Linked DNA regions of Homo sapiens: all the other regions are linked to region 1. The links come from fine-mapping of genetic effects on gene expression. A gene starts in region 1. Each other region holds a variant in brackets. All regions are shown on one strand. Distances are from middle to middle.

Region 1 (10,528 bases):
TAATTCCAGAAAAACATTCAAATAAGAGAGCTCTACGGTTTGGGGTAAACTTTGGTATACAACATTACAACTTAATGTCTTCCATCTATGCTACAGCAAAAGCAATTCAAAAACCCTCTCAAGGTACAAACAGCCAAATGTTACTCTTACCAATTTCTTACATATAATTCTGATGGGCTTTTTGAGACTGAGCAAATGCTGTCTCATTGAGATACCAAATGTATTTCCCAGGTCCAGATAAGCCTCTAAGAATCAGCCTCAAACATTTTTAAATAAAAATAAAACTTAAAACCATTTCACCCACTCTATGGTATAAGGGCTGCAAATCACAGGCAAAGTTTCGAAGATGTGCTGAGACACTAATATGTTATTGCCCCAGCTGCTAGAACAGCTGTCATCCACGTCTCTCTTCTGCAAACACACAGTACTACAAGAATGAAAGGGAGGCCGGGCGTGGTGGCTCACACCTGTAATCCCAGCACTTTGGGAGGCCGAGGCAGGCGGATCACGAGGTCAGGAGATCAAGACCATCCTGGCTAACACAGCGAAACCCCGTCTCTACTAAAAATACAAAAAAATTAGCCGGGCCTGGTAGTGGGCGCCTGTAGTCCCAGCTACTCTGGAGGCTGAGGCAGGAGAATGGCGTGAGCCCAGGAGGCACAGCTTGCAGTGAACCGAGATGGTGCCACTGCACTCCAGTTTGGGTGACAGATCGAGACTTGTCTCAGAAAAAAAAAAAAAAAGAATGAAAGGGAAAGGAAGAATGCCCTGAATGCTTGACTAAGGAGTCTGAGAATGTAGCCTTCTCCCAAAGTAGTTTGTCATCCTTCAAGCTGAAGCCACCTGTACAGGTGAGTGAAGATAATACCCCCACCTTCATTTAGAGAACAGTATGACTAGTGTTTTAGAATTCTCTGATTGTGCCTACCCTTTGTTTCATAAGTTTTGTTCAAATTCATCACTAATTTTAGAGGAAAATGTAAGTTCCTACAACTGTCATTTCCCAACCACTAATAAGTTATTTGACTTGAAGCACAATTTGCAATAATGGCCTCTGTAAGCATTTCTTTAGCCCCATCATCCAAGGGGCTGCTTTCATCTCATTCATTTCATCTCGTCTCACTTCTAACCTCAGCCATGTGCTCGAAAAGCAAACGAACCAAGTGGCAATAGCATTAGCAGTGAAAAAAATAACATATCTAGGGTTGTGCAGCTGACTGAGATCTTATAAAAGTATTGCTTTTATAGGATACTGTTGTTTTCAAAAGGAAACCAGAAAAGAAATATCGATGATTAGAAATAATGTTTTTTCTGTAAGTTTGTTCTTTGTTAAACCAAACAAACAGGTGTCACAAAACAGAACAAAAAAACCAATGATGGGTCAAAGTTTAAAGAAATGGATAGATGGCTGGGTGAAGTGGCTCACACCTGTAATCCCAGCATTTTAGGAGGCGAAGGCAGGAGGATCACTTGAACCCAGGAGTTCAAGACCAGCCTGGGCAACATGGCGAGACTCCATTTCCTTAAAAATAAAAAGATTAGCCAGTCATAATGGTGTGCGCCTGTAGTTAGTCCCAGCTACTCAAGAGGCTGAGGTGGGAGGATCACCTGAGTCCAGGAGGTTGAGGCTGCAGTGAGCCGTGTTCACACCACTGTATTCCAGTCTGGGCAAGAGAGCAAGATCCTGTCTGAAAAAGAAAAAAGAAATGGATAAAACATAATACTTCATTTTATTTTCCAAATGAATTCAAGGCTGGAATTGGTGGGTCAAATTCAAATCTAAATATGGTTTCATGAATCTTTCTCATGTGGATACCCCAAAAGTGATTTCATCTATTAGTCCCCAGTTGTATGAAAAGTATCAACTGTACCCTGCAATGACCTAAAGCCAAACTGAAATTCCAGCAATGGACTGGCAGAACCATACACTATTAATTCAATAAATTTTCTTAGGTAAACAGGACACAGAGCCAACACCAACAGAAATTACATGGGGTTGGGGGATCTAGACACATAAACAGATGCTCACAACAGTGTGGCTGGTCAGATGCTGTGGAGGCAACAGAATTGGGAAGTATGCTTCAGCTACCTAAAGAGAAGCAGGCGCCTGCAACAGTGAGCACTCATGCCAGGTAAGGCTCTGGTGGAGGAACTGAAAGAAAGTCAGCATGGCTGCAGCCAAACAACTCAGGCTTTATCCTAAGAGCACCAGGTAATCCCTGAAGGGTCTTAAGCAGGGAAGTGGCATAAACAGATGTAGGTCTATGAAAGATTACTTTGGCTGACCACAGAGACATGAGACGACAAAGGAGTGCTTAGAGGAAGTCCAGATGGCTATGGTAAGCCAGAAAAGAAGGGATTGAAGCCCACACTAGGGAAATGGAGAAAATTGAACAAGAAGGAAAATCAAGAAGATTCTGCAACTGGCTGAATGGGACAAGGAGCACTGGATAAGCAGAAAGGCAGAGCCGAAGATCACAGGCAGACGCTGAGCTTGAGTGAGAGAGAACTGTGCTGCCACTCACTACAGCAGAAAGCACAGCAGGCCTCAGGGGTGATGAGTCCTACTATGGACATTTGTGCCAGGTACCTGTGGGATATTAAAGTGGACAAGTCCCAACAGATGGATTTAGAAATCTGAAGCTCAAGAAAGGTCTGGATTGGAGATTTGGAAATCTGGCATGAAATCACCCAGGAAAAAAGCAAGTGAAATAAGGAGAGCAGAGTACCTTAAGAAGAACTCTAAGAAACTCCAACGGGAAAGGGACAGGGAGTACCCCCTAGAAGGGACTGTGAAGGAAGAGGTAGACCAGGAGGAAAACCAGGAGACAGAGTGTCACAGAGATCTGGGGACTTGAGCATCACAGGCAAGAGGCATGCTAGTGTCGAATGCTGCTGAGACACCAAACGAGGGAAGGGTGGAGAAACTTCCATTGGATTTAACAAGGAGAATTATCAGTGACCTTAACAAGAACAGTTTCACTGAGGTTGTGGGTGGAAGAGGCCAGGTTGCAGCAGGTTGAGGCGTATGTGAAAGGTGAAGAAAAGGAAACCATGAGTATAAACAACTTGTTCAAGAAATTTCACTCTGAAGGAAAAATGAGAAATCGCATAGTAATCACAGAATGTGATAGAGTTGCAGGACGTTTTCTGTTAACCTTTTTAATGTAAACATTGTTAGAGGCTTGAACATGTTTGAATTAATGGGAAGGAGCCAGTAGAAACATCAAAGAGGAGAGGATGTAACAACTCAATGGGCCTTAAGAAAGTAGCAGGGAATGGGATCTGAAGCAGAAGTGCAACAGAAGCGCCGGGCGCAGTGGCTCATGCCTGTAATCCCAGCACTTTGGGAGGCCGAGGCAGGTGGATCATCTGATGTCAGGAGTTCGAGACCGGCCTGGCCAACATGGTGAAACCCCATCTCTATTAAAAATACAAAAATTAGCTGGGCATAGTGGTGGGTGCCTGTAATCGCAGCTACTCAGGACCCTGAGGCAGGAGAATCGCTTGAACTCGGGAGACGGAGGTTGCAGTGAGCCAAGATCACACCACTGCACTCCAGCCTGGGCAACAAAAGCAAAATTCTGTCTCTAAATAAATAAATAAATAAATAAATGCAAGAGAAACTGTAGAAAGGAGCAAGTCTTCCTTTTCTTCCTTCCACAAGAGGAGGAGGAAAGGGTGAATGTGAATGAAAGCCAGTTTAAAGGTTAGGAATCCAGATGCTGGAGACATACTCATTCTCTCATTCTCATTCTCTCTCCCCGCTGAGTCTCCATTTTACATGCCCACCGGCAATGTACAACAGTGCTGCTTTCTCCAGTATTTACTGTCTTTTGTATTATACCCATCCTAGTGGATGGGAGGTGGTATCTCATGGTTTTGATTGGCATTTGGAGACCATTCTCTTCTGAGGTCACCTATTTTTCCCCTATGAAGAAAGAGTTAGGCTTTTTGCTAAGAGTAAGAGGGGAGGTAGCAATAAACAGTGGAGTGGAGGCCGGGTGTGGTTGCTCACGCCTGTAATCCCAACATTTTGGGAGGCCAAGGCGGGAGGACTGCTTGAGGCTAGGTGTTCAAGACCAGCCTGGGCAACATAGGGAGACCCTGTCTCTACAAAAAATAAAAAAATTAGTCGAATGTGGTGGTGCGCACCTGTGGTCCCAGCTACTTGGGAGTGGGGAGGATCACTTGAGCCTGGGAGTTTGAGGCTGCAGTGAGCTATGATCACATGGCACACTGTACTCCAGACTGGGCGACATAGTGAGACCCTGTCTCAAAAAGAAAAAAGTGGAGTGGAGCAATTGGGGGTAAAATGGTGAAGTCTGAAGCAGTCACCAGGGAGGATGGGAAAGAGCACTGAGCAGAGAAACCTAGCAGGATGGTAAGACCAAGCCCAGAGAAAGCTGGAGACCGTAAGTCTTTAGAGGTACCCATCTGGTCTCCTCTGTGAGCTTTTCTACCCCAGGAAAGAAGTGTGCTTTTGTGTATGTGTGTGTGTGTGTGTGTGTGTGTGTTTTAAATGTGATCTAACACACAGTTGACTTATATAATTATTTCATTAACTGATCTCCTCTACTAAGTCTATTCTGGCTAAATTCAGACAACACTCATCATACCCCTCTTGTGCATTCTTCAGCACGTACACAACATGTACTTTTTTTTTTTGAGATGGAGTCTCACTGTGTCGCCCAGGCTGGAGTGCAGTGGCACAATCTCGGCTCACTGCAACCTCTGCCTCCCCAGGTCAGGTAATTCTCGTACCTCAGCCTCCTGAGTAGCTGGGACTACAGGCGCACACCACCACGCCCAGCTAATTTTTTGTATTTTTAGTAGAGACGGGGTTTCACCATGTTGGCCAAGCTGGTCTTGAACTCCTGGCCTCGTGTAATCTGTCGCCTCAATCTCCCAAAATGCTGGGATTACAGATGTAAGCCACTGCGCCTGGCCAATATGTAACATTTTTAACTTTTTGTAAAACCAGAGAATATTTTGAAATGTGTCCGAATGCCCTGCCTAGATTCTAGACTCTGTGAGGCCCCAGCCTCCTTTCCTATGCATGACTTACTGTTTAATGTAGTACACACAGAAGGGATATCATCATCATAATAAAGGTCCTCACTTTCCTTCACAGTTTCATCTACCCCACAATGACTCCCAGGAAAAGGAGGGTACTGTTTCAGACTTCCCAGCTCCCGTATATTAGGTGGAGCCAAGTTCTTGCTGCAGCATACGGGCACGCTTTAAAATTTTCAAATCATTTTTTAAAAGCTACAAGCTTGACAGCTTTGGGTTTTTATGGCTACTTGTTTTCTGAAGTTCACAGAACTTTATCATTTGGATCACACACTTAAAAAAATCACTTGCAAAAATCTCTTTAAAGATGAATATGCTTCCTCTTCAAGAGAAACAGACTAGCGGGTAGAAGAAAAAGGACCCGTCTAGAGTATTAATAAATAGACTGATATTCACACAATGGATTAAATGGATTAAAGTCCATCCCACAGATGAACTGTTATATTAATAGAATCCAAATATACAGTTACATCCTCGACCCTGAAAGCAGTTTAAACGGGTGAAATTCACCCAGTGCTCACTTGAAATGAGTACTCTAAAGTTTAAAGCACCTATAAACTGCCCTCAGGATTCAATCATTTTTCCATTCCTTCCGGCATTATATACTTTGATGTTTTAATGTTATTAGCCCACAATACACACCAGTTTCAGAAACTCAGTTTTTGTCCTCTAAGGGCTTTTAGTCCTCCCAAAAAAAGAATAGGGCAAAAGCAAGGAAGATCATGAATCTGGTTTTCTAAAAGCATTATTACAAGACTGCTTTATAAAATTGTAATCCCCAGCTGCAGAGTTCCGCAGATGGCTTGAAAGTGTCTTACATGCAAATAAATAAAAACAAAAGGCCACTTATGCGAGCAGAACACAGCGTGCTCGATAGTCATCTTAAACCGAGCAGGTAGGTACTTTATCAGAGGCAGACAAGGGAAACGTCACTTATTTAGAGTTCACCGCACGCCTGGATAAAAGTCCTCACTAACAAAATCCCTGCCTTTGTGGATTCTGTGTCGGAAAGGGAAACGATAAAGAATACGGTTTGTGACAGCACTACTCTCAGGAGACGAAGGAGAGATGCTAAGATCTTGGAAAGGAGAGAGAATAGGAAGAGTCGGAGGGGAGATCTCCTCTCAGTAAAACGGCACCCACAGCAGTCAGACTTCAGCTACGAGCAAAATCGAGTCCGTGCACCTCAAAAAAGAGAGGGAGGCAGGGAAAACTTTCCCTCGCCTCTCCCCATCCTTCCCTCCTCCTCGCAGGAGAGCACATTAGCTGAGGTGCTGGCGGGGCCGGGCCGGGGACCCCATCCCTCGCCCCGGACGCAGCGCCCGCAGGGACTGCCCGGGAGCCCGAGCGAGGGAGGCGGGAGGTACAGGAGTAACGGGGCACTCCCGGCCCGGCCTGCGGGGAAGGGAAGCAGGGGCAGGGCCGAGGGGGAAGAGGCCTCCGCGAGCTCGACCCCGCGCCCACACGCTACCTGCGAGGTCAGCTGCTGCCGCGCCGTCCCGCGGGACCGCAGGGATCTCCGAAGCTCCAATGGGCGCAGAAGTGCGAGCGAGCGGCGGTGCCCACCGGCAGCGAAGAGGAGGAGCGCCAGGGCGCCGGGCCCGCCGGGTCACGTGGCCCCGGCCGCCTCACGTGACCCGGTGCAGCGCGCGCCCGGGACGCTACCCAGCCGAGCATCCCGCACCGCCCCGGCCCCGGCCCCGGCCGAAACCCTGCTCTTCGGGCCCTACAACCCGACTTCTTTAGAAGCCGATTGGCCGTCTCAGGCCCGCCCCGAGGCCCTGCCACTGGAGTGTCCCCATGAAATCCGGTGGCTGCTGCCGGGACTTAGAGGCTTTTGTGTCTGAGGAACCAGGAACGCGCGAGGCACGGGCTCCTGCTCTGCTCCCCGAGATGGCTTGGCTGTGGGGAGGGTCGGCCTACCACCCCAGAGACCTAGGACGGAAAAGCGACCGAGAAACTTGGCTCCCTGCCCACTCTAGAGCGCGTCTGGCCCCGGGGCACCACCCAGGTGGTGCTGCCTGGGAGGAAAGGCGGCGGAGCTGGGACTAGTTTGTTTTTACTGGAGACGCGCCTCCCTCCCTCCCCGCCCCTCACTTCCTGATTGAAAGTACCTGAGGCAGGCCAGGGACTAGGGAAGGTGGCAGCTGGACAAAGGTATGAAGGAAGGACGAGATGAGGCACAGGTCCTGGTATTGGAAAGAGGCAGAGGTACCTCGGAAGCATGCCATAGAGGTTAGACGGGACCTAAGAGGGCATCTGGTCCAACCGGATTCGTGTTACCAGCGAGTAAACTGAGGCCAGGAGAGGGACTGCTACGAGCTGCTCCAGCCTATCACCTATAAAGACTACAGTCCCTTTGTAAAATACCATACAGCTCTCGGAGAACTCCCAGTTGGCGCTGCAGGATAAAATCCAAACTTGTTGGCATAGCATTCCAGCCACTTGTTCACTTACCTTTCCCATTTGAGCTCCTAGGAATAAACAGAAAAACATTTCATTTTCTAAATATCACCAGATAACTTCACTTTTGGTAACTTGAATTATTAAAAAAGTCCTACCGTCCCTCATCTCTTGCCACTTCCCCAACATTACTGGAGGCTCTGGCTACAAATAATTTGTTTTCCTTGACTACTCAACTTTCTTTGGATTATTTACTTTTTCTCTAAGTTTCTTTACTCCTTTTTGCTTTGTTCATTCTTTTGTCTGTATCTGAAATGTCCTGAATCACCACCTCCCCCACTTAAAGAAAACCAGGGCCAATGATTAAAAAAAAAAAAAAAGGTATTAAGAAACTAATGCAATAAGAGAATTGAGCTTAGTTCTGTATCTATTCTGAGGTCTCGCTCCTGTTGCACTAGTTCCTGAATAAAATGTTTTTACCACTTCAACTACTGTTTGGCTCTGGTTTTCTTCAACAGCCTCCAAAGTACACATCAGTTTCCTACTCATCTTTCAAAATCCAGGTCAAATGCCGCCTACTCTTGTCTTCCCAGCATCCTCTTCCCTGATTTTTTAGCAATTGAAGTTCATCCAGACAGTGTCAGCTGCAACTTCTTCCCTGATTTCCAGAATACTATATATATTCTGATACACCTCACACTGCCCAGAAATAGACTGCGCATTTCCTGTAAAAGGTGAATTGTCTATTGCTGTCTTCTCCCTTAGATTATAAACTCTTTGAAACAGGATTCTTCTGGGTTTAGAACAGCGCCTGGCATGTGATAGACCCTTAATACTCACTGAATGAAGTGGCTTGCCCAAAGTAGTGGCAGTTGAGTGAATTTACTAGAAGAGGCCTGTTTTGCTCAAAGAAACTAAAATCAGTTTCTTTTGGTTGCAACCCGATCAAAAGAACTTGTGTAAACATGTCTGAGAGAAAAACGAGGGCATGGGGTGTGAGCAATCAAATATGTCCTGAGCCCTCACTGCTTATGTGTCAGATGCCATACTTGGAGCATCTTGGAGGATTAAAAGCTGAATGAGACATGGTTGCTGATAAGGAATGTGTAGTCTGGTTCATTATTCCAGTACAGGGTGAAAAGTATTATGATACAAGGTGCTAAGTGAACACAAACCAGGGACCACAAATCAGGGAGTCAGGGAGAAACTTCATGAGAAGGTCAGTTGGACAGGAAGTAGATAAGAAGAAAGAAAAAGACATTCCAGGAGAGAGCAATGTGTTCAAAAGTAGTGACACATGAAACAGTACTATTTGTTTAGGAAAAAACAAACAGGTAGGTGCAGTGGCTCATGCCTGTAATCCCAGGCCAAGGCAGGCAAATCACTTGAGGTCAAGAGTTCAAGACCAGCCTGGCCAACTTTGGAAAACCCTGTCTCTACTAGAAATACAAAAATTAGCCAGCTGTGGTGGCACGTGCCTGTAATCCCAGCTACTTGAGAGGCTGAGGCACAAAAATCACTTGAACCCAGGAGGCAGAGGTTGTAGTGAGCCAAGATCGCATCACTGCATTCCAGCCTGGGTGACAGAGTGAGACTCTGTCTCAAAAAAACAAAAACAAGTAACCCTATATTGATGCCTTGATGACTTCATTCACATCTAGGATAAAGGAAACCAAATTAGGTTAATTTTAATATACTTGAAAGAATGACATATTTACTGGTATTGGTGTTATTTATTGTATTGAATAACTTTCTATCAGGCACATCATAGGCTCTGCATCTAAAATTGGCCTAGGCCAGGCACAGTGGGTCACGCCTATAATCCCAATGCTTTGGGAGGCCAAGGTAGGTGGATTGCTTGAGCCCAGGAGTTCAAGACCAGCCTGGACAACATAGCAAGACGCTGTCCCTATAAATAAATAAGAATAAAACTGGCTTGGACTAACGCGAGGTGATTTTTTACCTTTTTTTCCAGCCTCAAAAGCTTTCTATGATTATTATGTAAAAATACCAAAATTACTTGTTCCAAAGAAGATGATTTTTTTTATTTTTTGAGACAGCGTCTTGCTCTGTTGCTCAAGCTGTACTGCAGTGGCATGATCATAACTCACTGCAGCTTCAACCTCCATGGGCTCAAGTGATCTTCCCACCTCAGCACCTCAGCCTCCTGAGTAGCTAGGACCACAGGTGAGGGCCATCAGGCTGGGCTAATTTATATTTTCTGTGGAGACGGGGTTTGCCATGTTGGCCAGCCTGGTCTCGAACTCCTGAGCTCAAGCAGTTTGCCTACCTCAGTCTCTCAAAGTGCCAAGATTACAGGTGTGAGCCACCATGCCTGGCCCCAAAGAAGATTATTTTAGAGCACTCCAAACCTTTCCTTTAGAGCAAAATAATTCAATTAACAGGTAGTACTTTAAGACAGAAACTGGGCTTAACCTCCAGCATGTGAAAAGGGAGAACCACTCCACTTAATGCTAACACATGATTACGTTGGGAAAAGTACCTGTCAAGAACCTAATAAAATATCATAAGGTTTGTCCGGACATGGTGGCTCACGCCTGTAATCCCAGCACTTTGGGAGGCCAAGGCAGGTAGATCACTTGAGGTCAGGAGTTTGAAACCAGCCTGGCCAACCTGGTGAAACCCTGTCTCTACTAAAAATACAAAAGTTAGCTGGGTGTGGTGGTGGGCACCTGTAATCCCAGCTACTCAGGAGGCTGAGGTGGGAGAATCACTTGAACCCTGGAAGCAGAGATTGCAGTGAGTCGAGATCATGCCACTGCACTCCAGCCTGGGCAACAGAGTAAGAGTCCATCTCAAAAATAAAATAAAAATAAAAAATGAATAAAATTGCTTCTTTGTCCTTTGGCAGGCAAAATAGCTTTTTTATTTTTTTATTTTTATTTTTTGACACAGGGTCTCGCCCTGTCACCCAGGCTGGAGTGCAGTGTCATGATCTCAGCTCACTGCAGTCTCCACGTCCTGGACTTAAGCGACCTTCCCACCTCAGCCGCCCGAGTAGCTAGGACTACAGATGCATACCACCACA
Region 2 (10,528 bases), 54 kb before region 1:
CTCAGCCTCCTGAGTAGCTGGGATTTCAGGCACACGCCACTACGCCTGGCTAATTTTCTGTATTTTTAGTAGAGACAAGGTTTCACCATGTTGGCCAGGCTGGTCTTGAACTCCTGACCTCAGGTGATCCGTCCACCTCGGCCTCCCAAAGTGCTTGGATTACAGGCATGAGCCACCATGCCTGGCCCTTTACCTCATTCTTTAATAAAATAATTGGACCAGATCTACTATCCTTCATAAATCAACAGGATGTGGGTAATTTACAAACTCAGTAATTTAGTCAAAAGTAACCTCATGCCCTGAGAGTTGTGGTACATTTTCCAGAGGTGTCTAACAGGTTGGCCACTAAGAGAATGTGCCATTCAGAGATTGATTCGGTCACATATGCTCCCCTGCCACCGCCCTGCATTCCTGTTGCTAAGATCTGAGAACAGTGTTATGTTACAGTTTTGATTTTGGAATCCAATTCTATTCCTTAATAAGCCAAGTGTCCTTTTTTAAATAAGGTTAACTCAAACTTTAAAGTATAGAAGAAGGAATTTTAATGTTTTGACTGATGTTTGGTTTAAAGATGTACTTTGTTAAAGAAGTTTCTTTCTTAAGGGCTCTTTGGGAAGTCAAAGTTCCATTTGTATGTGCAGGTATATAGCTACTTAGCTTTTTGTTTGTTTGTTTTTGAGGCAGAGTCTCGCTCTCTCTCCCAGGCTGAAGTGCAGTGGCATGATCTCAGCTCATTGCAACCTCTGCCTCCAGGGTTTAAGTGATTCTCTTGCCTTAGTCTCCAGAGTAGCTAAGATTACAGACATGTGCCAACACACTCGGCTAATTTTTGTATTTTTAGTAGAGATGGAGTTTCACCATGTTGGCCAGGCTGGTCTTGAACTCCTGATCTCATGTGATCTGCCCGCCTTGGCCTCCCAAAGTGCGGGGATTACAGGTGTGAGTCACTGTGCCCAGCCTTACTTAGCTTTCTTATAACTTATATCCCATGAGTTTAAAACCTTTATTATAAATATAGTTATTTTACAAGGACAAGCTGGACAGCTTATATTGTAGGCAACAATATAAAAAATGTTTATTTGAATGGGATTATTTTCTATAGGGCAAAACCAAAAAGTGAAATAAATAGTAAGCATTTCCAAAAGCTCATTTATTATACTATTTTATTCATTTATTTCCTCTAGACCAAGCACTTCCCAAACAGTGTGCCTGAGAACCACCTGTAGGGCTGGTGAGGACACAGATAGCTGGGCCTATCCCACAGAGATTCTGATTCAGTACAAATACCAAGAATTGGGGGCCAGGCGCGGTGGCTCACGCCTGTAATCCCAGCACTTTGGGAGCCCGAGGTGAGTGGATCATCTGTGGTCAGCAGTTCGAGACCAGCCTGGCCAACATGGCAAAACCCTGTCTCTACTAAAAATACAAAAATTAGCCGGGCGTGGCGGTGCGCGCCTGCAATCCCAACTACTTGGGAGGCTGAGACATGAGAATCGCTTGAACCCAGGAGGCAGAGGTTGCAGTGAGCCAAGATCGCACCACTGCACTCCAGTCTGGGCAACAGGGTGAGATTCTGTCTCAAAAAAAAAAAAAAAAAAAAAAGAAAAAAGAGAAATGCCAAGAATTACATTTCTGACAGCTTCCCTGTAGTGCTGCTGCTGCTGTTGCCATCTAACATTAAAGTTCCATGGCACATGACTGCTCTCTTTCCTTTCCCCTGTTTTGGATTACATATATAAATGGAGGAGTTTCTGCCTATACAAACTGTTTAATATTGAAAATGTTTCTCTCCCTCCAGACTATGAAGAAATCGGGAGTGCACTTTTTGACTGTAGATTGTTCGAAGACACATTTGTAAATTTTCAAGCAGGTATATGAGTTATATAACATCTGAGCAGCATAGTTTTGAGAAATATTTATCACGATATTGAAACAATATACTGTACAGGTGATAAAAATATTTTAGAAGAATGTTCATTGTTTTCTTAAATGAGAAAAGCCAATTACAAAAACAGTATGACCCCGCCCACCTGCCCACACACACAGGAAAAAAATATCGAGGTACATGTGCACAGACAAAAGCTGCACCTGGTGGAGACAGTAGTTGGTTGTAGGTAGTTGGAATATAGTGATTTTTGTCTGTTCTTTTACTGCTATATTTTCCAGATTTTCTATATACACACAAATACTTTTATAATGAGAAAAACTCATTAAAAAAGTAGAGACAACAAAAAATTGATTCAAAAATTGGAGCATATTTTGGCCTGTGTGTGGCCCAGGCAGGAGCTGGTAAAGCTTCCTGCGGCTTCTCTGCTCTTGGGTGGCGAGGCTATGATAAACCATCCCTCCGCTTGCCTCCCTCTCGCTTGGTGAGATAGGTCAAAATTTTAATTCTCCCACTATTAATCCTCAAATCTAATTTAATTTCTTATCAGGGAGGGTTACGACTGATTTAAAGTTCATCAGAAAAAAAAAAAACAAAAACAAACAAACAAAAAATGAGCAAGTAAGAATAGCCAAGAAATGTTTGCAGTAGAAAATCTCGTTTGGTTTGGAGGAGGGAGATTTAACCTTCCTATTAAATATCAACCATTTATTGAGTGAGTCCTCCTTTCAGCATTAAGATGCCCTCAAGACAGGCTACACCTCCACTTGTTTATGAGTCTGGTCTGACTTCTCTATCAAGGCTGCCACACACAGCTGGGCAGGCCGGGCACAGAGTCAAACAGCATTGGTGGATGGCTCCCCCTGAAGTTGCACAACAGAGTGAGTGCCCTCCACACTCTGCATTTCCACAGATGCATCTGTCTCTCCAGCATATGGTAGGAAGACAATAAGATTTCCCTGTGAAGAAATCATTAGTTCATATCCCTGTCTCAACATACACAACCTTTCTCATTTTGGCTTCTATATTATACATTTCTATTTGAATTTTTTACTACATTTATAACCAGCAGGAAAAATACTTTGAAAAATCTACCAAAAAGAGTGTCTGTCTTAATAGTCTTTTGAGGATGTCTGCTAATATATAGCAGTATCCATATTTTTTTAAAGCAGCCTTAAAAATTTTTTTCTAAAAAGAGTTATTTTGTAGGGGACTTCCATGTGTGTTTTTCTTTCATGTAAGGGAACATGTCACACATCACTACTTGGATGGATTAGGTGGGAGTACATATATTATAGTGTAGTATGGCGGGGGTGCCACTACTTAGAACTGCATGAGATTCAACTTAAAAGGCTTAAGTTGGGTTTCACTACCCTGGTTGATAAAAACTTGCTTAATTTAGCCTTACTCATATTTTAAGTTAACTATACGTATGCAGTTATTCTGAATAAAGTTTGTATATGTGTGTAACTGTTCGATTTTGAGGCTTTTAAAAATTACATTGCCATTGACTACTATTTGTTATTTATAAAGCCTAAGTATCTTCCTCCTAAGCTTTTCTAAGTTTCCACAATTAAAAGCCTTCCTATTTCTAAATGAAACCAAAAGCCTTTATGTAACATTAAAAATTGGACACATTTTTAGGAAGGATTTGTCCTTAACCTTGGTATTCTAGCCACATTCTCCAATTATCATCTCTCAATAAATGGATATAGTATAGCATGAAGGTTATACAGTCACTGTTTTCAAGTTCTCAAAGATATACAAAGGGACTTGTTCTGCTATAAATGTGCACAAAATCTTAAGGGTTTACTGAACAGCTTTGTGTATGATAAATGTTAGAATTCTGTCCTGAATTAGAAGGAGGAAGTGAAGGCATAAAGAAACCAGCTCCTGCCCATAAGGCTCTGGATCCTTTTCACCAGAGGCACGAGGATTGTGTATCTGTACCTGCAAGTGAAAGGGGCTAGAAATGGTACATTATTTCTAATAAAACTACTGAATAAGCTGAAATAATTTTATTTCTTCTTTTCATAGCAATAGAGAAAAAAATTCATGCATCTCAACAAAGGTGGCAGCAGTTGAAGGAAGAGATTGAGCTACTTCAGGACTTAAAACAAACCTTGTGCTCTTTTCAAGAAAATAGAGATCTTATGTCAAGTTCTACATCAATATCATCCCTGTCTTATTAGGGATTACCGTTTCCTAAGCCAAGAGTCATGTCAAATTGCAATCAGGCTCAAAACCAGAGACCAGGCTGTGAAATCCACACATCTTTAGAACTAGTCGTCTCCTCTTGGCCTCAGCAGCTCTTCCCTGTTCTTACTGGTTGACATTTTGATCACTCTTTGCACACTCTTGTGTTTTTTGCTCACTGTCACATTCCCAGCACCTAGTATGCTCAGTAAATGTTTGTGGAATAAGTGCATAAAATGTTCTTAACCTTTGATTCTACTTACAGCCCATGATAGCCTCTTAGATATAATAAATTTGGATTATACTACTTTACTTGTACCAAATTTGCCTGTTTTCGTGTCACAAAGTCTGCTTTTGAAAAGTCTCTTTTCAGCCACAGTTATCACGTGGAGATTCATCATCTTCAAAACAGACACCTAAATTTTAAATTGGACTCTGAATAAGAACATTATCGGGAGTATGCAAGAATGAAAAAAAAAATTGACAGTTACATTTTTCTCAATCTAATATACGATTCTGGTTTTTATGCCCACACTATCACGTCTGACCCCTGAAAACTTAACATTCACAGTTCTCATTTTTTACCATGGTACTCTGATTTTCAATAATGCTGCGTCTCAAAATGGGTTTTAACTGAGTCTCCAAGCATGGTGTCTGACATGTAATAAATAAGTACTGGAAAAATATTTGCAGGAGATGAAAAAGAACAGTCCATTCCAGTTGTAATGGCAGCCCTAGCCTAAGTTCTTATATCTTAGGGACAAAATCTAAACCAGTGGATTTCAAATCCGGCCGCACATCAGAAT[C/T]ATGTGGGGCACTTTAAAAACTACAGAAGTGAAGACCCCATCCAACACCCTCTGAACAGATTTCCGCTAGTCTAGATGATTATTGATTACTGTAGCTTCAGCTTCCTATCCTGATATTAAGTCTTAGCAAAGTTTTTGGTTGTTGTTTTGTTTTGTTTAAGACGGAGTCTCACTTTGTTGCCAGGCTGGAGTGCAGTGGTGTGATCTCGGCTCACTGCAACCTCTGCCTCCTAGGTTCAAGCGATTCTCCTGCCTCAGCCTCCCAAGTAGCTGGGACTACAGGCGCGCACCACCATGCCCAGCTAATTTTTGTATTTTTAGTAGAGATGGGGTTTCACCATGTTGGCCAGGATGGTCTCGATCTCTTGACCTCGTGATCTGCCTGCCTCGGCCTCCCAAAGTGCTGGGATTACAGGCGTGAGCCACCACGCCCAGCCATCTTAGCAAAGTTTATCTGACTAATCATTCTGATGTCATGATCTTTATTTAAAAAAAAAAACCTTTGTCCCCCACTTTACTTTCACGTTTAACCTGTGACTCACACAGCATGTAACTGTGCACCATGGAGCACCATGTGTTTGGTGGCCATGAGGCTGGCTACTGGGCAAACCCGAGTATGGGTTCATAAGGCGGAGCCGAGTATGAACTTCAGCTATGTCACTACTGAAAAACTTGAATCCGATTATTTAATCTGAGAATGCTGCTGCCTACCTTATGGGACAAAATATGGACAAGTAAGTAAAATGTGAAGCAGAGAGCACAATGTCTGGCACTATGGGAAATAAATGTTAAAACACACCCATGCACGCACACACTCCCCTTGCTAACATTTCTGTCTTATTTTCTCCATTCTAACCAAACTTAATTATGATAAGCTCTGGAAGGCTCATTAGCCCCCATCTCTTGTGCCTCTTTTTGTTTTGGAGATGAGCTAAAAGGACACTTTATATTTTCCCCTATCCAACACAAGCGTTATCTTCAGAACAACTAACTGCTTGTCATGTTAACCCTATTAACTGTATTAGTCCGTTCTCACACTGGTATGAAGAAATACCAGAGACTGGGTAATTTATAAAGGAAACAGGTTTAATGGACTCAGTTCCGCATGGCTGGGGAGGTCTCAAGAAACTTACAATTGTGGCGGAAAGGGAAGAGGCCCGTCTTACGTAGTGGCAAGTAAGTGAGAGCACGCAAAGCCCAGGGGGAACTGCCATTTATAAAACCATCAGATCTCATAAGAACTCCCTCAATAGCATGAGAACAGCATGGGGAAACCGCCCCCATAATCCAATCACCTCCCAACAGGTCTCCCTCAACAACTGAGGATTACAATTCAAGATAAGTTGGGTGGGGACACAGAGCCAAACCACATCATCCTATTTGGTTTTCTCTCACTGACTGTTATGAAAAGCTCTTTATAAGTATCTCATTGTGTTGTTAATTCCTAAACCTATCTCCCTCTCTCCTAATAATTCATATGTTCTTTGAGGATAGGGAATATGCCTTTCCCTTCAAGTACCCCCAAAGGTACAGACACATTTTTCTACTGTGCCAGTTCAACTGTACTACCCTTCAGCAGGAATAAAATCCAAAGATTTCTATGATGTTTGTTTGTGTATAGTTGAGAATCAAGCAGTTGACATGTTCATGCTGGTACCTATTTTTAGCCTGATACCCATTAAGAATCACACCACTGATTTTTTTTATTATGGTAAAATATATATATAACCTAAAATTTGCCATCCCAATCATTTTTAAATGTATGGTTCAATGGCATTAAACATTCATTTTTGTGCAACCATCACCACCATGCACCTAAAGCAGCAGTCCCCAACCTTTTTGGCACCAGGGACTGGTTTCGTGGAAGACAATTTTTCCACGGACCATGGGGATGGGGCGGTTGGTCAGGGGTGGGGAGGATGGTTTTGGGATGAAATTGGTCCACCTCAGATCACCAGTCATTAGATTCTCATATGGAGCACACAACCTAGATCCCTTGCATACTCAGTTCACTGTAGGGTTTGCACTCCTATGAGAATCTAATGTTCTAATGTTGCCACTGATCTGACAGGAGGCAGAACTCAGGCAGTAATGCTCACTCATCCGCCACTCACCTCCCGCTGTGCGACCTCTTCCTAACACGCCAGGGATGAATATGGGTCTGTGGCCCGAGGGTTGGGGACCCCTGACCTAAAGGACTCTTCATCTTGGAAAACTGAAACTCTGTATCCATTAAACAAGTTCCCCATTCTCCTCTCCCCTCAGACCCTGGCAATGACCATTCTACTATGTCTCAATGAATTTGACTAAGTATATCACACAAATGGCATCACATAGTATTTTTCTGTGAGTGGCTTATTTCACCCAGCATAATATCCTCAAGTTCACCTCTGTGCACCATGTGTCAGAATTTCTTTCCTTTTTAAGGCTGCAGACTACTGATTTTGAAGGAAAAAAACAACTCTATGTGCCTGTTTTAATGTTACTTTGTTTATTAACATGTCGTTCTAAATATTACATAAATACAGCTTACATACTAGAGTATCAAACATTGTTCCAGTAAGAAGTTCAAGAGTACATTTAGGGCTATCTTAAGAAATATGAATACTTTGGCTTCCATTATTACATTAGATGAAAAAATCAATTCAAATAAGAGTTGTCATATCCTGCTATGATTAACAAAAAAACAAGTAGAAAAATAAGAGAGTGTATTTAAAAAAAATAATCAAATGCTTTTTGAAAGACCTGTTCTCTTCACTGCCACACATATTCATACAAATGACTTAGTAATCTAATATGAGAAGTGGTCCTTCACTTATATTAGGAACTTGGTAAATATTTGTTGAATGAATGAACTATCTATGGATATGAATTTACTACTTTAATTTGTGCTTTTTTTGAAAAAAAGTTTTCAAGTAAGAGCAATAGTAAACATACTGAAGTTCACATTTTGCTCAGATCATAAGCCTATAGAACAGTGATTGTTACAAACACCACCCATCATAGCACAAATCAATGTGCATTTCTGAAGCTAGTAAGAAAAGTTCTATCATGTTGTAGAACGAATTCTAACCGACTAATTCACTGGGCTTCAATCACTTGTGATATGGTCAAGAAAAGGGGGCTGGGGCTCCTAGGCTTGTATCTATTTCAGCTATCAGTGAATTCCTATCTTTAGGGCCTCACTCCCCTTCCCACCCCAATAGACACAAATTTAAAAACATTGCTAAAAATAGTAGTTGTAGCATGTCTTCACCCACTTGTAATTTGGCTCTGAAAATGTATTCAGGCTCCAGGTTCAGAAGAGAGACTTTCCAAGCAGGAGACAAAATTCACTAAGGGAACTCACTCAAATGGAAATGAGTTCATGGACCAGAGAGCAAAGCAAAACATTGCTCTTAAAAGCAAGCTCAACGGACACACATGATGAAACTCACAGTTGAACACTCTTACATCCCAAAGTCACCTTCCATAACCAGTTCAAATAAACTACTGTCTTTTAATAGGATCTTTTCAGGAACACCATAATTTTGGTGCTTTTTCAAGGTGAAATTGTGCTGTTATACCTAAGATGTTTAAAAACAGAGGAAAACCAAAAGTGAAAGATGATAAAGTTTCACATAAGCCAATGTGTGATGGATTTGGCCTAAAGTAGATAAAGCAAATTCCACTAAGTCTTGTAAGAGGGTTGACTTGAAGAACCACTTCTTCCAGTCATATATAGTAGATATGATGATTCAGCAGTCATAATTTAGGAAGGCAAGAGTATACTATACATGTCATTATTTTCCTCTTAAGTTTGCATTTATAGAAGAAGGTGGTGGGGGACAATTTAAACTTGAGTTCTCAAGTTCTACCTTAATGAAATAAAACACCATTGGATAAGTAGTGGAGATTCTAATTTATAAAATATTCACCTTCATCAAATTTCTTTCATTATCAACTTTTCACGGATACTTCTAAATTACTATTCTTTATGCACTTAAATCTTAAGAGAAATCTTGACTAACCTAGAATATTTATCTTTACATAATTATCATTTCAACAGGTTTAATATACGTTAAACTTATTACTTTGATTTATCTTGAAGTTAAAAAAGTCATCAACGCAAGCACACAAACAAAAGTCTGAAACAATCTTAATTATTCCTTCACAGTAAGGCTACTAAACTAGCAACTAAGGCAGCACTTAACAATCCCCAGGTCAGCATCTTTAATTCACGATGGGGCCTCTCCATTCATCTCACAATTCCCCAACTATCACTGCTCCTGCTGTCAGAAGATTGTTGATACGTGGCCCAGGAGAGTTGCTGCCAACTTCCCCTTTCCAAGTTCAGAAGTTCCTCTAATCAAAAATGAAAAGAAGACCAAAAACGACTAACTTTCACCCTTTTACATGTTCCAGCCCAAATTTACGAAAGGTCACATTTAAAATACACTTATCTGGAAACAAGGGTTGTTTAAAATGGGCTCAAGAAAAGCCGTACACCCTTGTTATGTTCCTACACAAACAACTGTGTCCCAGATGTGGAAAAAAACAACCTGATGGTCTTTTACCTGCAGAATCACATCACCCGTAGAGCACAAACTGGACACATCCTCAACAGTGCCCCAGAGCACTCACACAGAACCCAGCAGCCTTGCGCTTCAGTTCTTAAAGGCTCCACATTTACTGGCTTTAGCAATGAATTCCTTTAGCAGAGGGCCATCCATTTGCCAAAATGCTGCAGTCTGTGTAACTTCTGTCAAATGATTGATGCAAAACTTAAAGCAGAATTCTTCTAAATCCTGGACACACAACAAAAATAAAAACAAAAATGGCTTTTTTAGGCAACTTTGATTGAATTACTTCTCTCTGAGCCCTTTACCCCAAATCTCTCACCCTCCCCCAGAAAAGATATTTGAGAGGCCAGATACCTAAAACTAGGCAAAAAGGTGACCACAGGTAGGTGTGAGAAAAACACATACTATTTATTCAACGCAGTAAAAGCAATGGTCCTCTAACTCAAAGTACGACTCTTCAAAACACACACGCGCGCGCACACACACACACACGCAAGATCTACAAGGGAAAGAATTTCCTGCACGATTATCACATAATCTAGTTATGCTCAAAGACATTGTTGTAAAAGGCAGAATGCCACTTTAGTCTGCAGAATGTGTTTTGTCACGTTCAAGACATCAGAGAAAAGAATTAAGATGTGGGTTAGTTTAAGAAACAGAAAGGTAATGAAGAGATATGGTCAACCTAAAGTGGCACATTAAAAAGAAAATCCCAGCCGGGCACGGTGGCTCACGCCTGTAATCCCAGCACTTTGGGAGGCCGAGGCGGGCGGATCACTTGAGGTCAGGAGTTCGAGACCAGCCTGGCCAACATAGGGAAACCCCGTCTCTAGTAAAACTACAAAAATTAGCCGGGCGTGGTGGTGGATGCCTGTAATCCCAGCTACTCAGGAGACTGAGACAGGAGAATCGTTTGAGCCTGGGAGGCAGAGGTTGCGGTGAGCCGAGATCGCACCACTGCACTCTAGCCTGGGTGACAGAGCAGAGGCTCTGAAAGAAAATCCCAAAAAATTCACCTTAAATTCACTTTTATGCTCTCCTAATAATGACTTTATTTTTAAAGCCATAAAGAATAATAA
Region 3 (10,528 bases), 25 kb before region 1:
ACAAACCCAAGATTTGTGGTGGCATCGAGCCCCACAGCAATGTAGGGCGGCAGACATAGACTGGGGCTTTTCAGGGTAACATGATGGAGCGGAAAGGGGGAATGGACTTTAAGGGCCTGGGGAGAGATGGTTAAAGGCACTTTCACCCAGTGCCAGAAGTGTAACAGACATGAACTTTCTGGAGAGAAATTTGGCAATGGCTATCAGTATTTCAAATGGCATACTTCTTGACCCAGAAATTCTTTGGAAATTTATTCTATAGAAATACTTGTATAAGTGTACAAAGATACACATACACAGAGTAACATAGAAAATCACCACAACTCTGTCTATAACAGCAAAAAATTAGAAAACTGACATGTTCATCAGTAGAGCTCTGTATGTGGGTCATTCACAGAAGCCAAAGTCAGCAGCCATAATGATGGAAAGCCGCATAAATGGTCTGATCACAGACACAGATAAACACAGGATGCTATACAGGGGAGCGGGAAGCAGGCTGAAGAATAGCAGAGAAAAGCTGCAGTAGGTATAATCATCCCATTTTTTTAAAAAAAGATAATTATACTCACCCATATATAATTGTTTAAGGGAAAAGTCCAAAAAGATATGCATGAAACTATTAACAAGATTGGGAAAAGGTATTCACTTTTTATTTTATCTGTTTCACTTGTCTTCCTTTACTTTGTTAAAATAACCATATAATAATAACCTAAAAATTAAACTTATTTTTAAAAATAAGAGAAGAATACTGGAATGGAGGATATTCAACGGCCATCCCAAGGAATTCTGAAGTCATTTCATGATACTGAGATTGATTTTTTAAAAAATAAGTTAACATAAGGTCTATGCATAAACTCTAAAGCACCCTAGCACAGGGGTCCCCAGTCCCCAGCTCATGAGCCGCAGGCCGGTACCAGTCCGTGCCCTGTTAGGAACCGGGCCGCACAGCAGGAGGTGAGCAGCGGGCAAGGGAGTATTACTGCCTGAGCGCCACCTCCTGTCAGATCAATGGCAGCATAAGATTCTCACAGGAGCACGAACCCCATTGTGAACTGCACAACAAGGCATCTAGGCTGTGCGCTCCATATGAGAATCTAACTCATGCTTGATGATCTGAGGTGGAACAGTTTCATCCCAAAACCATGCCCCCAACACCGCCATCTGTGGAAAAACTGTCTTCCATGAAACCAGTCCCTGGTGCCAAAAAGGTTGGGGACCACTGCCCAAGCACACCAATGCATGATGCCAAAACATCTGTGTCCAGGGTAATATCTTTGTATAATTTTCATGCACTAAAATATGCATAGGTAGTAAATAGCCTATTTAAGTGGAAGCTGCATCCAGAGACTAATTTCACAGAAATAACCATCAGCTCAAAAGTGACCACAGTAGGGGGTAACTAAAGGGACAGTTGTTAAAAGTAGCTAACAACAGTCAGGACCCCACAAAAAATCTGCTTTTGCAAGTTGCTTCCTCCTGTGAACATTCAAGATATAGGTAGGTAGTTCTACAAGGACTTCATCAGTTAATTTTAAAATGTACAGTTGACATTGTTTCATTGGAAGAGAAAGGTAGGATTAAATTCTTTAATCTATTACATTAAATATCACGAACAAATAGCTATAGGCATTAGGCTCTTTGGATCTTGCAAAAAATACAACTTAGACATATAGAATCTTTACTTTCAGGTAAATCCTGGAATTTAGAAAAGTCATACTGAGGAGCAAAAAACCTCCAGCTCCTCAGTCAGTAATCAGTTAACTTTCAATGGAGCTACCAAAACAAAGCACTCTTCCTTCTTCCATCTGATACATTCACCTTGTGAAGAAACTGACGTGTAATTGAAAAAGAAGGTAGAAAGGGAAATGGGAGTGGAGACACCTCACCTCGCCATTGTCCAGAACAGCCATGGATGAAGTCTGACCACAGGCAATGCCAACTACCCTCTTAATATGTAAACAGTTTGTAACTTTTCGAGGAGTTGGTTGATTTGCTGTAGAACCTGATCCCACTTGGCCACAGTTGTTATAACCCCAAGCAAACACCTACAAGAGAAAGAAAAAGGAAAAGGAAAGAATAGTCAGGGTGAAAATTCTACCCCAACACAAATAATCATAAAAATTAAAATTATCCTACTTAATGAGTACTTAAGATGTGCTAAACGGTTCTATATGCTTTACACACATTAACCTATTTAACCTGCCTAGTAATCCTGCAAAGTGACCCTAGAGTAGGTAGTACCCACTTTATACATCTCCGTTTTATACATGGAAACTGAAACATGAGAGGTTAAGTGACTTGCTTGAGGTACCAAAGCTGGTAAGTAGCGCTAAGAGAATTTAACCCCAAGCAGTCTAGCTATGCTCTTGACCACCATGCTACATTCCCTCTATAATTTGTGTGTGTGTGTATACACACACAACTACACATACACACATACGAATGTGGCATCAATAGGAAATGCGGTATATGCCACATAAGTATTAGTGATGTAAAACATTTGCTCAACTCTTTGGGCATAAATATTCATTGTTTTCCATGGAAACCATTCTTTTTGTTTTGCTTTGGTTTTTTTTTTTTTTTTTTGAGATAGAGTTTCACTCTGTCCCCCAGGCTGGAGTGCAGTGGTGCGATCTCAGCTCACTGCCAGCCCCGCCTCCCGGGTTCATGTCATTCTCCTACCTCCCAAGTAGCTGGGACGACAGGCGCCCGCCACCATGCCCGGCTAATTTTTTGTATTTTTAGTAGAGATGGGGTTTCACCGTGTTAGCCAGGATGGTCTCGATCTCCTGACCACGTGGTCCACCCATCTCGGCCTCCCAAAGTGCTGGGATTACAGGCGTGAGCCACCATGCCCAGCCTCATGGAAACCATTCTAAACAAGACTATAAACAGAGAGATGAATTAGGGAGGGAGGTGTTGGCAGTAGAGGAAATAATTTCCTCCAACATTAGGAAATGTCTAAGCCCCCGCTCCCCACCCTGCTTCACGTGGCTGCAGGAGGTGGTCCACGTATATACTGAGTGTGGCTTCCATGATTCTTGTCTGATGCTGGCCAAGGCAACAACAGTAGAGCCCTCTGGTATATGTGTTACAGGTTCATTTCACAGGTACAAAACAAATAACCTGCAACACCTCCTCAAAGTATATTCACATAAATATCTAGTTTAATTATGCAAATATTAATATTCAGTATAATTATTCAAAGTACCATATGCTTAAGATTAAAATAAATCAGGAACCCAGCCGGCATAAATTAGCAAGTTTGAGCTAATTTCAGCAATCATTCTTCTGGCACTTCTCAAA[T/C]ACATCACATTCCCTTGCAGTGCTGCTGACTCTTGTTTAAAAACTGGGGCTATAGTTCCACTAACCAAGAAATGGACTAGGAAACAGTGGATCTGGGGCATGAGGCCTGTGTGCTATGCCTGGCTCCAGCACATCCCAGTCATGAAATCTTGGTCTCCCTGAGCTTTTGGGTTTGTTCACTTATAAGTTGTCCTACTTAATAAAATCTCTGTAACATCACTGAGGGACTTCAAAGAGAGGAACAGTATGATCTAATCTGTGTTAGAAACCAGAGAGGACAGCAAAGCAAGACTGGACAGACGGATCAACTTAAAAGATAGGGAATAGAAGGGACTATGGCAGTAGTCTAGGCAGGAAATGACAAGACTTGACCAAAGGCAATGGAAATGGAGAGGAACAAAATGGAGGAACAAAAAGGCAAAGGAAATGGAGAGGAAATGGAGATGGTACAAAAGATTAGAAGACAGAATCAATAGGATGAGTGACCTTTAAGATAAGCACAACTTGGGGGCTTAACAAGTGTTACAGTACCTACTAGGAGGATAGTAAAGTTATTTTTTCCAAACTCATTACATATACTGAAAAATAAAATAGACCTTAAGGATGGGGTCACTAAAAAAAAAAGTACAGAACACTGTCACACATCTGAGCTATAGTCTTAGCAAAGAGCATGGGACTCAGCTGCCTTAAAAAATGAACTCTAGGTTGGGTGCGGTAGCTCACACCTATAATCCCAGCATTTTGGGAGGCTGAGACAGGAGGATCGCTTGAGCCCAGGAGTTCAAGACCAGCCTGGGCAACATAGCCAGATTCTTGTCTCTACAAAAAAAAATTTTTTTTTTAAAAGAATGAATTCTACTGCCATCAAAAGTGTAATCTTGATTATACAATACACGTTATGCTAGAGAGAGAGTGCACTCCCACAAGGTTTTTAGCTACATGCACAGGGCTACAATATTCACACCACATCAAGTACAAATATGGTCATTAAAATCAGAGGATTTTCACAATAGCCAAAAGTGGAAAAAATCCAAACATCCATGAACAGATGAATAGACAAACAAAGTGTGGCTTACAGCAGGTCCTTGAAAAACGTCATTTCATTCAACATCATTTTGTTATAACACTAATGAGAAAAAATGTCAATTCCCGGCCAGGGCCACTGTCTGTGGAGTCTGCATGTCCCATGTCTGTGTGGGTTTTCTCTGGGTACTCTGATTTCCTCCCACACCCCAAAGCTGTGCAGACTAGTTTGTGTCTAAGCTGTATACATGTCTCAATGATTCTAGTGAGAGTGAGTGTGGGGGTATACATGAGTGCACCCTGTATCCTGTCCAGGGCTGCTTCCCACCTGGTGTCCTGCGCTGCCAGAAGAGGCTGTGGCCACATGCAACCCTGAACTGGAACAAACGGGTTGGAAAATGAATGAATGAATAAATGAATACAAATTATTAGAAAATAAAAATTCACAAAGTAGGCTTGTCATGGTGGCTATGCCTGTATTCCCAGCACTTTGGGAGGCCGAGGCGGGAGGATCACCTGAGGTCAGGAGTTCGAGACCAGCCTGGCCAACATGGTGAAACCCCGTCTCTACTAAAAATACAAAAAAATTAGCCAGGCATGGTGGCAGGCGCCTGTAATCCCAGCTACTCAGGAGGCTGAGGCAGGAGAATCACTTGTACCCAGGAGGCAGAGGTTGCAGTGGGCCGAGATTGTACCATTGCACTCCAGCCTGGGCAAGAAGGGTGAAACTCTGTCTCCAAAAAAAAAAAAAAAAAAAAAATTCACAAAGTAGACAATAACCATACAAATGCATAACAATAAACAACACAGTCAAACACCCTCAGTGAGCTGTCACATTTGTGATCGTTTGCTTTTGAACTGTGTGGCAGTAGGAGGTGCCCCTTGTAATTTTTGCTTTGCAAACATTTATTCCTTGACTTAACCCACCACCACTATGATCACCCCAACTCAGTGATTCACCATAAATTGGGTAAATAATTCTCTTATTGCTTTTATTAATCTTTGTTAAATATATGTATTAGTTTGCATTTATTTAAATGTTTAAGAAGTGGTTTGGGTCTTCAGAAGTTTGGTGATGTCTTTGTGACCAGAAATATACCATAGGAACTTAACTCTTGTTTTTATCAATTAGCCAATGGTAAAACTGGTTTCATTACATGTCTTTTTGCTTAAAGTTGTAGTTTCCAAGAATCTATCAATGACATTATGTGGGCACTTACTATATGTATCCAATGGAATATTATTCAGCCCTGAAAAGGAATGAAGAGAATCCTATCATATGGTACAAAGTGGATGAACCTTGAGGATATTATGCTAAGTGAGATAAACCAGTTACAAAAGGACAAACATTGTATGATTCCACTTACGTGAGGTACCTAGAGTAATCAAACTCAAAGAAACAGAGTAGAAAGTTGTTGGCTGGGCACGGTGGCTCACGCCTGTAATCCCAGCACTTTTGGAGGCCAAGGCGGGCAGATCACGAGGTCAGGAGATCGAGACCATCCTGGCTAACACGGTGAAACCCTGTCTCTACTAAAAATACAAAAAATTAGGCGGGTGTGGTGGTGGGTGCCTGTAGTCCCAGCTACTTGGGAGGCTGAGGCAGGAAAATGGCGTAAACCCGGGAGGCGGAGCTTGCAGTGAGCAGAGATCGTGCCACTGTACTCCAGCCTGGGCGACAGAGCGAGACTCCATCTCAAAAAAAAAAAAAAAAAGAAAGTTGTTGTCAGGGGCTGGGGGAGGACAGAATGGGAGTGAATGTTTACCAGGGACAGCGTTTCAGTTTTGCAGGATGAAACAGTTCTGTGGGTGCATGCTGGTGACAGTTGTATGACAAGGTGAACATACTTAACACCACTGAACTATACACTTAAAACTGGTGAAGCTGGTAAATTTTATGTTAAGTGTATTTACTATGATGAAAAAAAAAAAGAATAAAGAATAAAAGCAGCATACTTACCTCTCCATCAGCTGCCAGAGCCATTGAATGATGTGAGCCACAAGCTACTTCCACCACTTGCTTGATCAAGAGATTGGTACAGACCTGGACGGGAGCAATGCCTTGGTTGGTCGTCCCATTCCCAAGCTGGCTATATCCATTGTGGCCCCAGGCATAAACCACTCCATCTGTGCACACAAAGCACACAAAAAATCAGCTCCAAAAAGAAATAGTAACCCTGTACTTTCTTCCCCAGAACTTCGTACAGCTCCTTCTCCAACCTTCATTTCTCTCCCATTGCCCCCTCCTCTCTATTAAGTAACCATGGACAGAGTAAAGGAGAGAGAGATGGGTGACAGAACGGGATAGACAGATGCAAAATCTTTAAAGAAAAAACTTGGTAATAACATAGAAAGATCAGTTTTGTGATCAAAAGCAAAGTTTACGTATGCAAGAATTAGGCTTTCTAAAAGCTTTGATTCATCTCAATAGTTTCTGTGTCAGATGCCAAGAAAAAGGCAGATGATAAGAAAGCTCGATGTTAATGTTTACCATTGCTTAACCAAATACCAAGTCACGGGGAACCCACAGGGGGCGTGTGGCTACTCGCTCACCAAGTATAGGGGAAAGAGATAGACTGTTTACAAAGGAAACAAAAGTCTCAGGGCTTCTTTGAAGCAGACTATTTTATTTTAGTGGCATGAAATCTGGCTGAATTTTTTTTTTTTTTTACATAAAGCAACCATTTTTTTACGCTCATTTATTCTGTGTCAGGAATTTGGACAGGGGACAATGAAGATGGCTTGTCTTTGCTTCACAGTGTGTGTGATCTCAGGAAGATTAAAAGGCTGGAGATGACTTGAGAGTTGAGGACTAGCAACACCTGGAGGCATTGTCACTCACACTGCTGTGACTATCTCTGGAAAGCATAATCAGCTTATTCTAACAGATTCAACTCAGGAACAGCCAAATGGGGGAGACACACAGGGTAAGGTATGCGGGGATGAGGGGTGCACGGAGCTCCCATGCCCTCCCTGGCATGCCACCCCCTCCCAGCACCTCGATGTGGTCACCAACCCGGAAGCTCCTCTGTCTGAATTTTTTTTATAATGACTTTATCTTTTCTGAGATTCTGATGAAGACAACTTTTCTTGTGTTATCTCTTGAAGTATCATCGTTTCAGGCATTTCTTTCCACAGCACCCCCGAGTGCCAAGGGCAGGTCTCCCAGAGTTACACATTCTCCTCTTATCTTTCCCATGGTAATAAAACATCCTGACCTATTAAGGACAGTCTGCCTGGCAACAACACTCAAGGGCAACAGCAGAAATCCAAGTATTACAGTTAGGCTGCTGGTCACTCACAGCAGTCCCCAGGCAACCAGGGGAAACAGACTTCTACTTGTCTACTGTAGAACGAAGACAGCCCACACAAACTCAGAGTCCTCTTCCAGGTGACATGTGGCTCACAAGAGCCATTCCCTCCTACAGAAATTATGACAGAAACCATAAATGGGAAATTTCATCCTGAGAAAGATGAGGCTTAAGACTGAAAGAAAGAGTATAAAACACAAAAAGTATGATCCATGATATTGTGTTAAAAGCTACGGCAGGTGAAAGAAATGTCCAAACTAATGAGTGTTTTAACCCCTGAAAACAGAAAAATAGACTTAAATAGAGAAATGCATACCTTGTTCTTAGATGGGAAAATTCAGTATCATAAAGATTCTAGTTTTTCCTACATAAACTTATAAAGTTTAAATAGCAATAAAAGCTTAAAGTTACTTTCTGGAGGTAGACAAATTGATTAGAAAGTTTAATGGGAAGAATAAACAAACAAGAATAAATAGGAAAACCCTACAAAAAAAAAAGCAAGAAGGTAGCTAATTCTACCAGTTACTAAAACCTATAACAAGTTTCTATGAGGCTGGGCTTGCCTGTAATCCCAGCACTTTGGGAGGCCGAGGCAAGTGGATTGCTTGAGGTCAGGAGTTCAAGACCAGACTGGCCAACACAGTGAAACCCCACATCTACTAAAAAAAAAAAAAAAATACAAAAATCAGCCAGGCATGGTAGCGCGCACCTGTAATCCCAGCTACTCAGGAGGCTGAGGCACAAGAATTGCTTGAACCCAGGAGGCGGAGGTTGCAGTGGGCTGAGATTGTGCCTTGCACTCCAGCCTGGGCAAAAAGGACTCTATCTCAAAGAAAAAAAAAAAAAGGTTAATTTTAAAATAACCTGTAATTCTAAATAATCTCAAATAGAAGACGCTGAATCCATGAAACAATAGCAACAAGTTCTGGAAAGAAACATTTAAAGATCAAGAAAGAACACTTGGAAATAAAACAATGGGAATGTTAAAAATTTGACATAAGCGTTGTAAGATAAAGTTGAAGAAATTTCCCAGAACACAGATGGGAGAGAACATTTTTAAAAAATCATGAAGATCAGGCCAGGCATGGTGGCTCACACCTGTAATCCCAGCACTTTTGGAAGCTGAGGTGGGAGGATTGCTTGAGCCCAGGAGGTTACAGGTGTGAACCACCTGCTCACACAGTGAGGCTGCAGTGAGCCAAGATTGCACCACTGCACTCTAGCCTGGACAGAGAGACCCTGTCTCAAAAAAAAAAAAAAAAAAAAATTTGGAAGATCACTCCAGAATCTCTAACTTTCTAAGAAAAATTCCATAAAGGAGAAAACAAAGAAGAAAATTTTTCTTTTTTTGAGATGGGGTCTCACTCTGACCCTCACTCTGTCACAAAGGCTGGAGTGCAGTGGCGCAATCATAGCTCACTGCAACCTCAAACTCCTGGGCTCAACTGATCCTCCTGCCTCAGCCTCCTGAGTAGCTGAGACTACAGGTGCGTGCCACCATCCCCGGCTTTTTTTTTTTTTTTTTTTTTTTTTTTTTTAAGAGACATGGCCTCGCTATGTTGACCAGGCTGGTCTTGAACTCCCGGCCTGGAGCAAACGTCCTGCCTTGGCTTCCCAAAGTGCTGGGATTACAGGCATGAGCCACCACACACAGCCAACAAGGGAAACTATTCATGAAATATTACAAGAAGAAATTTCCAGAAATGACCAATACAATAAATTAAAAATTACACCAGAGTACAGAATCATGATTATGTCACAATACTTAAAAAAATAAAAATAAAAATAAAAAAAAGATCCTTGAAGCTTCCAAAGAGGAAAAAACAGTCACATACAAAATAGCAAAAGTTGCCAGGCATAGTGGCTCACACCTGTAATCCCAACACTTTGGGAGGCCGAGCCACAAGGATCACTTGAGCCCAGGAGTTTGAGACCAGCCTAGGCAACATGGTGAGACCTCATCTCTACAAAAAAATTTAAAAATGAGGTGGGAAGATCGCTTGAGCCCAGGAGGTCAAGGTTGCAATGAGCCATAATCACTCCACTGTACTCCTGCCTGGGTGACAGAGAGAGAGAGACCCTGCCTCAAAAAAAAAAAAAAAAAAAAAAAAAGGCCAGGCACAGTGGCTTATGCTTATAATCCCAGCACTTTGGGAGGCTGAGATGGGTGGATCACCTGAGGTCGGGAGTTCAAGATCAGCCTGGTCAACATGGAGAAACCCTGTCTCTACTAAAAACACAAAAATTAGCCAGGCATGGTAGCATATGCCTCTAATTGTACTTCGGAGGCTGAGGCATGAGAATTGCTTGAACCCAGGAGGCTGATGTTACAGTGAGCTGAGATCGTGCCACTGCACTCCAGCCTAGGCGATAGAGCGAGACTGTCTCAAAAGAAAAAAAAGGAAAGAAAGAACCAGTGTGATGCCAGAAGGCATGATTACGCAAGGCAAAAGTGAGATAATCACCTCATTATGCTCAACTCCAGTTATATTCATACCACATGATGATGCTCAGATTTGGATTTCACAGCTCTCTTGAGAAAGATGCAGAGAACTTGAAGTAGATTCAGTTAGGAGTTACAGGCACTTAGAAGGCTAGATACTAAAACCTGTGACAGCATTCTAGGAAGCTGTGATTCCTCAGTCTAGACAAAGAAAGGCCGGGATGCAAATCATCTCCCAAATGCCACCCTAGACAATTATCCAACAAAAAGCTGAGGACCTCAGAGAAAGAGAGCAAGAGTTAATGTATCTAAAGTATAAAAGGAAGCATTTAAATAGATAATGAATTTTCAGAGAGTGTTGGGTGCCCACAGTACAGATCGATTACACACACATACAAAATGTCCACTCTCCCTTAGTGATCTTGAAGAGGCAGAGTAAAAAAGG

Evidence for each region. PIP is the estimated chance that this variant, and not a neighbour inherited with it, causes the effect.
Region 2: its variant is fine-mapped to the expression of RCBTB1 in whole blood (INTERVAL, PIP 0.99).
Region 3: its variant is fine-mapped to the expression of RCBTB1 in whole blood (TOPMed, PIP above 0.99).

Annotation. Positions count from the first base shown.
Region 1 is chr13:49,578,897-49,589,424 of GRCh38, forward strand. It overlaps RCBTB1 (RCC1 and BTB domain containing protein 1), which reads right to left and starts at 6,662. Exons shown (of 13, transcript NM_018191.4): 1 at 6,548-6,662; 2 at 1,609-1,688. RefSeq lists a silencer at 6,186-6,895.
Region 2 is chr13:49,524,589-49,535,116 of GRCh38, forward strand. It overlaps SETDB2-PHF11 (SETDB2-PHF11 readthrough), which reads left to right. Exons shown (of 21, transcript NR_135324.2): 19 at 1,185-1,349; 20 at 1,799-1,870; 21 at 3,923-4,388. It overlaps PHF11 (PHD finger protein 11), which reads left to right. Exons shown (of 10, transcript NM_001040443.3): 9 at 1,799-1,870; 10 at 3,923-4,388. The coding sequence ends at 4,077. It overlaps RCBTB1 (RCC1 and BTB domain containing protein 1), which reads right to left. Exons shown (of 13, transcript NM_018191.4): 13 at 7,358-9,674. The coding sequence ends at 9,534. Among named protein-coding and RNA genes, the nearest start is that of PHF11, 34 kb to the left of the region's middle. The variant C/T (reference allele first, on the strand shown) is at 4,888.
Region 3 is chr13:49,553,629-49,564,156 of GRCh38, forward strand. It overlaps RCBTB1 (RCC1 and BTB domain containing protein 1), which reads right to left. Exons shown (of 13, transcript NM_018191.4): 5 at 6,290-6,456; 6 at 1,887-2,045. Among named protein-coding and RNA genes, the nearest start is that of RCBTB1, 27 kb to the right of the region's middle. The variant T/C (reference allele first, on the strand shown) is at 3,307.